3 linked regions of the Homo sapiens genome follow. The protein of the gene in region 1 purifies or fractionates together with the protein of each later gene. This does not show direct contact. Each region holds a gene or a part of one and is shown in the gene's direction. Other genes may lie near its edges. The genes, in order: SP7, SLC25A13 and SORL1.

Region 1 (3,749 bases):
GCTCTGTTTCTTCTTTTGCTGCTTTCTCTTTGTCTATCAGCCACCTGGTTCCCAAACCCTTCCCCTAAACCTTGGGTTCCCAGAGTTCCTTGAGGTAAATCAAATCATGGGGCTAGAATCCAGAACTCCTGGGCCCTACCCTGAAATTGGTGCCTACCTGCTGGCGAAACTGCTGTGCAACCCTCCGTGGACCTCCATCTGCTCCTGCCACCTCCCAGCTTTTTCTTTGGAGATCTGGGAGAGCAAAAGGAGCAAGGAATTGGGCACTCCGAGAAAGTGAGGGGATGGTGTTGCAGAGTGAGGAGAGTGGAAAGGATGGGGCTTTATTCCCCTGACAGGGAGAGCTGGGAGGGGGAGAAGTGTGTGTTAAGGAATAACCTGTAAAACAACCCCAGCGGGCTAAGCCCCCCTGTGGGAGAGCTGCCGGTGTCACCACTTAGCTGCCCAGTCCTCTCTCCCATAAATACCTCAGGGCCCATGGCCCAGGTTTCAGGTAATAGACTTTTTGGGTTTCCCTCCTAACCTGGCTGCCCTTCCTTCTCTTACTTCCTATTTTGTTGGGAAGTCCTTATTAAGTTCTAACTTCAGTTCTTTCTGTGGAAGAGGGAATTGATGCATGGCAATGAGAAAGGGAACCAGGAGTTCCCAGGAAAGTCAGATCACTCTGGAGAACTGTCCACCAAAGGATGGAGATTAAACCCATGGTCTCTAAGAGATGGTAACTTGGTTACCCAGGGATGGTAACTGACAAGGAATATGGAGGTTAGGGCATTTCTTTTTGGGGGAAATAATCCAAAGAGGTTAGGTGTCGGCATGAATGAGTTGACCCAATGACCTTCTACCGCCACCCTCACTCCTGCTTGTCTTAAATTTTCTCTTCATCAGAAGATCCAGGTTCTGCCCCACAAAGTGAGGTAGGCCTAGGTATCACCTCCAAACAGTGAAACTGAGGCACTGGGAGGAAGACTGAGGGACCCCCAAGCCAATACCAAGCCTTCCCCAACTCTTCAACCCTTCCTCCAGGCCTTGCTCTGGAACCAACCTCAGTGACACTAAAAGTTTAGGCAGCAGAAACCTCCACCTCAGAACCTTCCATGCCTCTTCCCACAACATACACACACACACACACACACGGGCACGTACACACACACAGGGGCACATACACACTGCTCTCCTGATCTAGAGGCAGGTGGGTGACTGGGGAAGCAAGCCTCTCCATGGTCAGCTGGGGCGGGTGTGGTGCGTGTGCCTCCAGTGCGTCACTGTGTGCATTTGTGTGTGTCCGTCTGTGTTCATTCATGATAGTGGCTGTACCCATGTGAGTGGTACTGTGTGTACGTGTGCATGCATCACCCCTGTGTTTGGCCATGAGTGTGTATGTCAGTGCGTTCCAGTCTCTCTGTGTGAGTGTCGTCCCCAACCCCCCATCCCCCCCCTGGATCTCTAATTAGTGGTTTGGGGTTTGTTCCTTTTCCCTCCTGTTCCTTCCCTCAGCAGCGGCGGGCGGCAGCAGCCTAGGCAGCAGCAGTAGCAGAAGCAGCAGCCGCCGAGCAGCAGCAAGGACTCTGGAGTCAGAGTAGGACTGTAGGACCGGAGCCTGAGTGGAACAGGAGTGGAGCTGGCCTGGGAGAGAGCGGATCCCTCCCAGCACCCTCAGGCCACCCGTTGCCTGCACTCTCCCTGCCAGACCTCCAGAGAGGAGAGACTCGGGACAGCCAGCCCCAGGTTCCCCCAGGTACATGACACTGGGGAGCTCTGGGAGGGGTGCCCACAGATGCCTATGGGACTGCTGCCGCGTGTAGGACACCGGGGTCCACCATCCCTTTAACCTCTCCCCTCAGCAGCCCCCCGAGGAAGCCCTGACAACTTGCCCATGCTGCTCTCCCCTCTTCCTGCTTCCCACCCCTTCCATGGGCGCCCCTTTTTCTCCTCTCCCTCCCTGATCCCTTCTTTGGGGAGCTCAGCAAATGGAGCAGGAAATTTGGACCCTCTGCCTCCCTCTCTCGCCCTCCTCATTGGATCTGGAGCCTTCTCCGCTGGGAAAGCTGTAATTAGAGGGTGGATCCCTACAGACAGAGAGCAGCCCCCCACCCCGGTCCCTTCTAACTTTAGATCTCTTCTCTCCCATTCTCCCATTCTCCCTCCCTCTCCCTTTTCTCTCTCTACCCCCCCCACCCCCCGGCTCAGCTCTCTCCATCTGCCTGGCTCCTTGGGACCCGTTCCCCAGCCTCAGGATGGCGTCCTCCCTGCTTGAGGTAACTGTCCCCTCTTCCCCCCAGGAAACCAGCCACAACCTTAATGGTCCTAGTCCTTGCCCACCCACCTCCTCCAACTCACATAGATAGTAGCTGTGGTGCTTGTCAATTCCAGGGGTCCTTCTGATGAGGAGAGAGGAGTGGGGTCCAAGAAAGGGGAAGCAGAGGGCAGGAGAAAAGGGAGGGAAGAATAGGGCCAGGGGTCAGAGGGCAGTGGAAAGAGGGTGAGAGGGGATTAGGTCAGAAGAAGGCATGGACCCCTACCTAAGGTCAGCTAAGCACACTGACTGTGAGGAGTGGAAAAGCGATGGAGAAAGGAGGGGGAGGGGGGCGAGGGGGAGTGAGGAGAGAGGGGTGGGAAATACATAAGCTGGCAGAAGAGATAGAAGGCAGAGAGGACTGGCTGAGTGGGCACAGAGCAGCAACTGGGTATAGCTCTTTAGGGGTCCCGTCTCCTGGGACTCGTAGCCCAGACAGGATCTTGCCTGGTTTTGTGGGGAGGGGGCTGGGCCCGTGAGCTGGTGTGTGGAGGAGAGGAGGTAGGCTATGAGAGAAAGGAGGAGGCCAGCCTGTGCCTGTGGGGGAGCTGACCAGGGGAACTGAGCCCAGGCCTGTGAGGGAACCAAGGAGGAGGGACGGGGTCTGAGGCCGCTTGCCCGGCTTACAAATATTTAGCTTTCAGCCAAAGACAAACTCAGCTCTATTTTGGGAGTGGGAGGCTCCAGGGCGGACTGGGCCACTTCCCCTCCGGGCTGGGACCCCAGCATCCCTTGCCTCTGGTGCTGGGGACAAAGGGAATTGGGGTACCACTGGGGTCAGGGTTTGGGGTCTTGAGAAATTTCTGACTCTACTCTGGCTTCTGGGGGACCCAAGGCACAGAGTTGGGAAGGCAGGGCTCACAGCCACTCAGGGCCAGATTCCTCCCTGCTTCTGGGTCTCTGACACTGTTCCTCTGTCACCATCTCTGTCCTGCTTTCTGGGTCTCTCTGCAGGAATTTAGGGCCAGAGGGCCCTCCCTGAAAGTCAGTCCCCTTCAGTAGCCTTGACTCTTCCCTATTCTTGGGTCCCACATCTCTCTTCCCAGTGCCCTAGCTCAGGCCCAGGGGTGCTGGGCCAAACAGGAAGCCAACTCACTCAACCTGTGGGAGAGGTGTGTGTTTGTGAGATGGGGCAGGAGTCTTTTAACACCTGTGTTCATTGGCCTGAGTGTAATCGTTAGGGTGCAGTCGAGGGTGCCACAGGCCCTGAGAGTGTGTGTGTGTGTGTGTGTGTGTGTGTGTGTGTGTGTGTGTGTAAGTTGGGCCATCTGAGTGCTGTGAGTCCAAGTGATAAATGGTGTGTGCACAAGGCTGTGAGATAGTGAATTTGTGGCTGAGTTTGGGGGAATAGCATGCAAGCCAACCAGATGGACACCACGTCCCTTGTCACACTCTGTATCCAGCCAGGGGTCTACCCGTAGCTGCAATGGGAGCAGACTGTCATCCTGCCACCTCC
Region 2 (3,649 bases), on another chromosome or scaffold:
TTTATATGAGCCAAGGGGGTAAGTTGGCTTTTTTTTTTTTTTTTTTGGAATTAGCTTAATAAAAGGAGGTTAGGAGGAGGGCAGCAATCAGGAGAAAAAGAAGCCAAACTGAAGGCTATACTGAAATATGAGAAATGAAAAAAGGGATGTTTTTAAATTTTATAATGTAAATTGTAATAAATTGGTATATTTGTTGCTTGTGTTTGTTTTTCCCCTACAGACGTATGACCTTAGCAGACATTGAACGGATTGCTCCTCTGGAAGAGGGAACTCTGCCCTTTAACTTGGCTGAGGCCCAGAGGCAGGTGAGCAAAGAGGAGCAAACTTGCATTCTGGGGTTTCCTTAGCAGGATACCCCAACCCTGTTCCACTTGCAGTTGCCTTTGCGGCATTGGTATCTGACTTAACCATTTTTCTGTTTTGCACCAAAACTCTCGATAAATTTTAAAGGCTGTAAAGAGAAATTGCTTAGAAATGGTGTGATAAACAGGTATTTGGCATTTGCTCATTTCTTGCTAAGGTGGAGTGATTTCCTAACTGCACCAGAAGCCTAATGCTCCGAAAACATGAAGGAGGTCTTTTCTCCTTTCTTGAAGTCTCATGTTGAGAGATGTAGCGAAAGAATCCCGTGTTGGTGTCACTGTGCCTGTCGGCAGCTGCACGTTGCTAAATGAAAGCCGTCTTTGCTCTGTGGAGCAGCCCTTCATCAGCGCATCGTCTAACTGCCATGCCTTCCGTTTTTCTGAATATCAAAATGAGATAATTTTGTTTAGTCTGGAGTTACAGTTTAAAGGCTTTCAGACCTATTTTCTCTGTGAAAGGATTCATAAGTTATATGGAAACAATTTTAGGAATGCTAAATTTTATTTTATGGTTAACAGAAACCAATCTCTTGAAGTTGTGGGAGTCAGAAACTTAAGACATGGAACTTTCTCCTTTAACTCTTACCCAGCTTTCTGTAGATCAGGATTAGAGAAGAAAAGCCTTCATAGCATGTGTTAGTAAAATAAATGGTGTTTGTAAAATAAATCCACTCACAGGCGAGTGTCGTTTTTAGAAAAATTTCTCCTTTTAGGCAGAGCCATCTCTGAATCCTGTGAGACTTCGCAGTTTCTGGCATGGAGCTCTGGGTTTGTACAGAGACGCCAGTGTGACCACAATGGGTTGCTGCAGGCTACACTTTTAGGACTGTCAGACCTTGAGCCAGGGCCCCCTTCTTTTAGCTCTTTCCCACCCAAATGCAGCGGTGAGTTTTGTGTGCAGCATGCAAGTCAAAGTAGTGGGTGTGTGCTCAGTAAATTCTAACGAGCACCTCTGGAAAACCAGCTGGCCTTGCTTAAAAGAGGAAGCCGATTTCTCTGAGTGCAGGAGAAATAACTATAATCACGTGTAGAGGTGGAAGCAACACTGCTCTCCCTTCCCTTTGATTTTTAACACTGCTTAGGAGATGATTATCTCTTCGTCTGTATGCCACCAGCTATTGTAGAAATTTGGGGATTAAGAGAAGCAGAGAAGTTTTTTTTAGATCCCTCCTACTCTTCAGCTGGCAGCGGCTTCCCACAATTTTTCCTTTAAGCTCTTTGCAGCTTTTGAGAGTTTATGATGGGTGCTTGTTGATACTGGCCATGAAAGGGTTAGACCAGATTGATGAGATTTATAGCAGGAAATGATTCGCTGCCGCTTAGAGGTTTAGAGCAATTCACAATGGCCTTACCTGGAATAGGCTTTTTACTGCATGAACCCTAGTGGGCCCGACAAATTCAAGCAAGGGAGGTCGTCCACCTGTGGGCACAGCGCTGCCTGTCCAGCACTGTGCAGCACTTGTAGCATTTATCCTGGACAGAGGAGTGAAGGAGCAGAGTTTTGTCTCATTTCAAGAACATGCTACAGTTCTGGCTTTGGAAAAGTTAAATAAAAGTCTAGGATTTCATTTGTCTTTTAGGAGAGGAATTAATGGTGGTGGTAGGTCCCTCCTCCCCCCACCCTCTATAATTTTCAGAGTATTTTCACTCATTATTTTGATGCCAGAACATTTCTAAGTATTGCATATTTATATCCCTGTAAATAAAATATTGCTTCTCTTTTGGATGCATCTGTCAAAATGAAGGTACTATTGATTTCCATCTATATAGGGCTACAGTTGGAAACAACTCATAGAATTTGCAAAAGAAATGTTTTGTATCTTAAAGAGGCATATTTCTATGTAAAGCTATTTTCAGTTAAGTGACTTTGAAGGAGATTCCAAATGATCTCATTGTATTAGAATTGTGTTACATTGACAGCAACTAAAATTCAGTGGGTTGATAGCTGGGGTTGCTGATTATTTTCATTGTTCACTGATTTTAATTATCATGGATTCTGAAAAACAAATTTTATTGAATGTATGTATTCATTCAACAGGTATTTATTAAGCACTGACTATATGTCACCCTCATTTGACAACTCTCTGTGACATAAAATTACTGTTTTATTTATGCAGACAGAGAAGTGCAGCACTCTGAAATGTTCTGGCATCAAAAACACTGTGAGGATAATAGGTCAAAAGAACCAGAAAACAATGACTGACTGACCTGAAGTATGAATTTAGAAAAGATGGACAAAAAAAGAGAAAAAGTAACGATCAACTGTAATACAGCCACCTAGTTTTAGCTACTGTAAATGTTTTGAGTATCTCTGGGTGGTAGGGAGGCAAAATATTAGTATTAATTTTATATGCATATATATGTAAACCTCTTACAAGCATTTTTAATAAAAAGTGACATCATTTTGTATATAGTCTTAAAAATTGTTTTTAAAAAAATTACCAGGAAATAGGTCAAACATTTAAATAGGTACAAAGAATCATATGACAAATACCTATCTACTTACCATGCTCTTTTTAGCCTATGTTTTCTTTTATAATTCCTTGTGAACATTTAATATCAAATATTCTTTTACAGTATCATTTTGAATGATAGGGTTTTGTTTTAAAGTTATTATTTTTAAAGGCTATAGTCCTCCGTTATTGGACATTTAGAATATTTCCCAAATTTTTGTTCTTTTTGTTTAAAGAGCAAAAATTTGGGAAATAATCGAAATTTCCAATAAGTACTACAAATGTTTTTTAAGTGCTACATTCTTGTAGCTTGTTACATGCATGATTATCTTCTATCCTAACTTTTTTCTTTTTGAGACGGAGTTTCACTCTTCTTGCCCAGGCTGGAGTGCAGTGGCGCGATCTTGGCTCACTGCAGCCTCCGCCTCCCAGGTTCAAGTGATTCTCCTGCCTCAGCCTCCCAAGTAGCTGAGATTACAGGCATGCGCCACCACGTCCGGCTAATTTTTTATTTTTAGAAGAGACGGGGTTTCTCCATGGTGGTCAGGCTGGTCTCGAACTCCTGACCTCAAGTGATCCACCCACCTCGGCCTCCCAAAGTGCTGGGATTACAGGTGTGAGCCACTGCACCCAGCCTATTCTAACTTCAGAGGTTATGTACATTTTAAGGGTTTGGGTGTATATTACTAAACATCTCTCTATTTATGCTTGCTTTAATGGCAAATTTCAGAAGGCTTGTTATCAACTTTTGCCAGGCTGGGTATTGCCACTTAAAACAAAAACAAAAATACATACAAACCAAAAACCTGCCAATTTGATTGATGAAAAATGATG
Region 3 (3,649 bases), on another chromosome or scaffold:
AAAGCCTCATAAGTGGTTTTGATAGTTCCCTTCTATTGACAATTTTTTATCAGGATTGTTTTTGAATAAGTAGTGAACTGAAGTCTGTACCTCCATCCTAGAGACTCGTGCAAAGAAGTCTTAATTCTTCTTTCTCATGAAAACTCATCAGTGGAGAACACTTGTCAGAGTGGTCTGCATGTCTTCTCACCACCTCCCCCATCCTTGTATCTTTTCACCTCTAGGAAAATATCCCTGGATCCTTTATCCATTCCTCTTGACCATCCTGGTTGCTCTCATGGGAACATTATCCAGTTTCTCTACCTATATCTCAAAGTGTGGTTGTTTATGTTAGGAGGAAGGAGAAGAGGGAGGGGGTCGAGGTCAAGAGGTGACCCATGACCACATGCCTGGGTCTGAAGTGGGGCGTATGAAGCTTCCTTGCTCAGGTCACAATGCTCATATCACCTTTAACATAACTTTGTTACTTGTGTGTACACTCTCTTTATTTCCTCAGGGCTTAGTTTCAGGAAGGGACTATTATCATCCTTGCTTTAAAATTAAACTATAAACAAAATTCCTTCCATAGTTAGCTTGGCCTACGTGCAGAGATAGGCAGAGGCCGTTAACCTACAAGATGTCACCATGGGCAGGGGGCAGGGTGCGGGGAGCAGAATGGAGCCACTCATGTTCAGCCTCCTTTTGTCTGTTATAATTTCCCCATTTTCAAAGCCAGTGATGTTGCATGTCTCTCACCTGTCTTCTGTATTCTCTCTGTCTCTCACCACAACCAGAAAAGGGTCTCTGCTTTTAAGGACCCATGTCATTAGACAGAGCCCACCTGGATAATCCAGGCTGAACTCTCCTACCTATGGGTCCTTAATCTAATCACACCTGCAAAGTTGCTTTGTTACATAAGGTAACATATTACAGGTTCCAGGGATTAGGATGTGGACGTCTTTGACTTGGAGGAGCAAGATTGATTTTAGACCCTCATCACTGGTGGGATTGGATTTCTGATGTAGCCCTTCCTTGTCCAGGACTGGGCAGGCAGGTGTGAATCTGTATAAGGAAGGCCTCAAGTTACTGTTCCTGGGCTCAACCAGCTACATAGCAGATTTGTACCACCCAGGTACACAGCCTGCATAGCAGATTTGCTGTCTACAGCCATTCTCACCTTTTCTCTTTTCAGGAGCATTTGCAATTATACGGTCATTGCTTTCTTTTTGGAGCCTCCCGTGCAGTTTTAATCTACTTTCAGAACTGGAGAGCACATCACATTTTGGTCAATAGCCTAGACATACAGTTGCATAACCCTTAACTTACCAGTGCTCATTATTTGCATTATTTCATTTTCTGTTCAAGTACTTTGAAAAGCCAAACAACTTTAAATACTACATAAAGTATGCATGCCTCTTAATATTGTTGGGATTCATCTCATTGTTATTTCTGTTACTCAAACCAGAAATCAGCTCCTCTTTCTAGATTGCAAACTAATAATAGTAGCAGAATAATTAATAGTACTATAGAGTAATAGCTACAGTTTGTTGATGCCGGCCAGGAGCCAGGCAGTGTTCCAGGTGTGTGATCTCATTAGATCCTTGCAGACATGATAGTGATGGAATTGTTACTTCCATTTTTTATAGGGCAACTGAACTCAGGTGATATTAAGCTGTTTGCTCAAGCTCATGCAGATCTAGGATTTAAACTCTAGTTTGTTTGACTCCAAAGTGCTCACTCTTCCCGAATGCAGATTCCAGTTGTTAATGTTAGATGAGATGGCACCTTAGTGCCGGTATAGATTCCACCACTGGTCATTCCAGAGGTGTGTTTTGAAGCAGAAGCCAATTAGTACTTTGCCTAAATGGGAATAAACTTGGGCCCAGCCTTTAGTACCATACGGCCCCTCCCCGTGGACTTAAGAAGCCTCTCTGTGTTTCAGCCACACACAGCACCTTGACTTGCATGAGCAGGGAGTTCCAGTGCGAGGACGGGGAGGCCTGCATTGTGCTCTCGGAGCGCTGCGACGGCTTCCTGGACTGCTCGGACGAGAGCGATGAAAAGGCCTGCAGTGGTGAGTGCCGGTCCACGGGCTGGGCTGGGCTGGGCTGGGCTGGGAGGCTCGCTTACCCCAGGGCCCCTCCTGTGTAGACCTTGAGCTAGGACCCTTTTGAACTGTTGCTCAATCTAAGGATAAAACAGATTTGTGCCTAGTTTTGGAGCCCCAAGTGAGGTGAGCCTTGGCCAGACTCTGATACAACATGCAGCTGTCTCCTCCCTGTTAGTGAAATGCTAGTCTTGGATTTTTTTTTTTTTATGGACTTCCCACCTCATGCCCATACACCATGGCTCTCACAGTCTCAATCTGCTGGTGGGATTAACTCAGTTCTTATCTCTGGAGTGTCTAGTAATGGACCCTATGACATGGTCCTTGGACTTGTAGCATTCTCTATGGAGAAATAGGCTTAAATTGTCATAGGCAGGAGGAAGATGAAATTCGAGGGAAAATATCACGACCGGAAAAGTAGGAGACCCTAGGAGGGATTGTATAGGGAGGTTTCAACTACATTTTCTGAGATTTCTTTTCAGATAATGATTATGGCCTCCTGATAATCTAGATCATGGTAGTTCTGTTTAAAAGCAGGAGTCCTTTGAAATCTAAGGATTTGTAAGATGTAACTTTTTTTTTTTTGTATTTTTAGTAGAGACGGGGTTTAGCCACATTGCCCAGGCCAGTCTCGAACTCCTGAGCTCAGGCAATTTGCCCGCCTCGGCCTCCCAAAGTGCTAGGATTACAGGCGTGAGCCACCACGCCCAGCCAAGATGTAACTTTGTTTGTCTTTTTCTCCTTTATCTCTCTAGATGAGTTGACTGTGTACAAAGTACAGAATCTTCAGTGGACAGCTGACTTCTCTGGGGATGTGACTTTGACCTGGATGAGGCCCAAAAAAATGCCCTCTGCTTCTTGTGTATATAATGTCTACTACAGGTAGGTCCCATCTTTGTCATGGGAGATGAAAATGATGTCTTCATTGCCCCAGGATGTTCTGTAAACTCTCTAGTGGCATGCACCATGCTATTAACGGAGTCAGACATCTCAGCCCCCCATGCTGCTCCAGTGTGACAATATCTTTATTTTTTTTTGGGCCAGGGTGGTTGGAGAGAGCATATGGAAGACTCTGGAGACCCACAGCAATAAGACAAACACTGTATTAAAAGTCTTGAAACCAGATACCACGTATCAGGTTAAAGTACAGGTTCAGTGTCTCAGCAAGGCACACAACACCAATGACTTTGTGACCCTGAGGACCCCAGAGGGATGTAAGTGTTTCAGTTAATTTTTATGGCATGGGTAAGACCTCAGGTCGGGGTTTGTGAGGGTCTTTCTGAGTATTCTCAGGAATGTGGGAACATATGTGTGCCTCACATGTACAGAAGTATGGTGGCTAAGCTTTATAGTCTTGCCAGAGTTGTCAAACATCTGTTCTTCTTACTGCATCAGAGACTGTTCTTGTACCTTAAGTTAATTTAAGATTCTCTCCACCATTGCCCTCTTGCATTTTTTGTCTAGTTTCTACCTCTACGTTCCTCCTCTAGATATTTCCTAGTACTTGGTACTTAGGAGGAGGTCATCGTCATTAAAATATGAGGCATATCAGCAATTTTGTGG

The links.
Region 2: the proteins of SP7 (region 1) and SLC25A13 purify together in Homo sapiens (affinity purification with mass spectrometry; one large-scale study listed by BioGRID and IntAct). This does not show direct contact.
Region 3: the proteins of SP7 (region 1) and SORL1 purify together in Homo sapiens (affinity purification with mass spectrometry; 2 studies listed by BioGRID and IntAct, with this or other methods). This does not show direct contact.

Annotation. Positions count from the first base shown.
Region 1 is NC_000012.12:53,334,132-53,337,880, reverse strand, and holds the start of SP7 (transcription factor Sp7), read left to right. Parts: upstream 1-1,526; 5' UTR 1,527-1,735; intron 1,736-2,104; exon of another isoform or gene 2,105-2,187; 5' UTR 2,188-2,234; coding exon 2,235-2,255; intron 2,256-3,749. UniProt on the Homo sapiens protein: Transcriptional activator essential for osteoblast differentiation. Binds to SP1 and EKLF consensus sequences and to other G/C-rich sequences.
Region 2 is NC_000007.14:96,185,950-96,189,598, reverse strand, and holds part of SLC25A13 (electrogenic aspartate/glutamate antiporter SLC25A13, mitochondrial), read left to right. Parts: coding exon 1-18; intron 19-220; coding exon 221-305; intron 306-3,649. UniProt on the Homo sapiens protein: Mitochondrial electrogenic aspartate/glutamate antiporter that favors efflux of aspartate and entry of glutamate and proton within the mitochondria as part of the malate-aspartate shuttle.
Region 3 is NC_000011.10:121,602,272-121,605,920, forward strand, and holds part of SORL1 (sortilin-related receptor preproprotein), read left to right. Parts: intron 1-1,921; coding exon 1,922-2,053; intron 2,054-2,841; coding exon 2,842-2,968; intron 2,969-3,130; coding exon 3,131-3,300; intron 3,301-3,649. UniProt on the Homo sapiens protein: Sorting receptor that directs several proteins to their correct location within the cell. Along with AP-1 complex, involved Golgi apparatus - endosome sorting.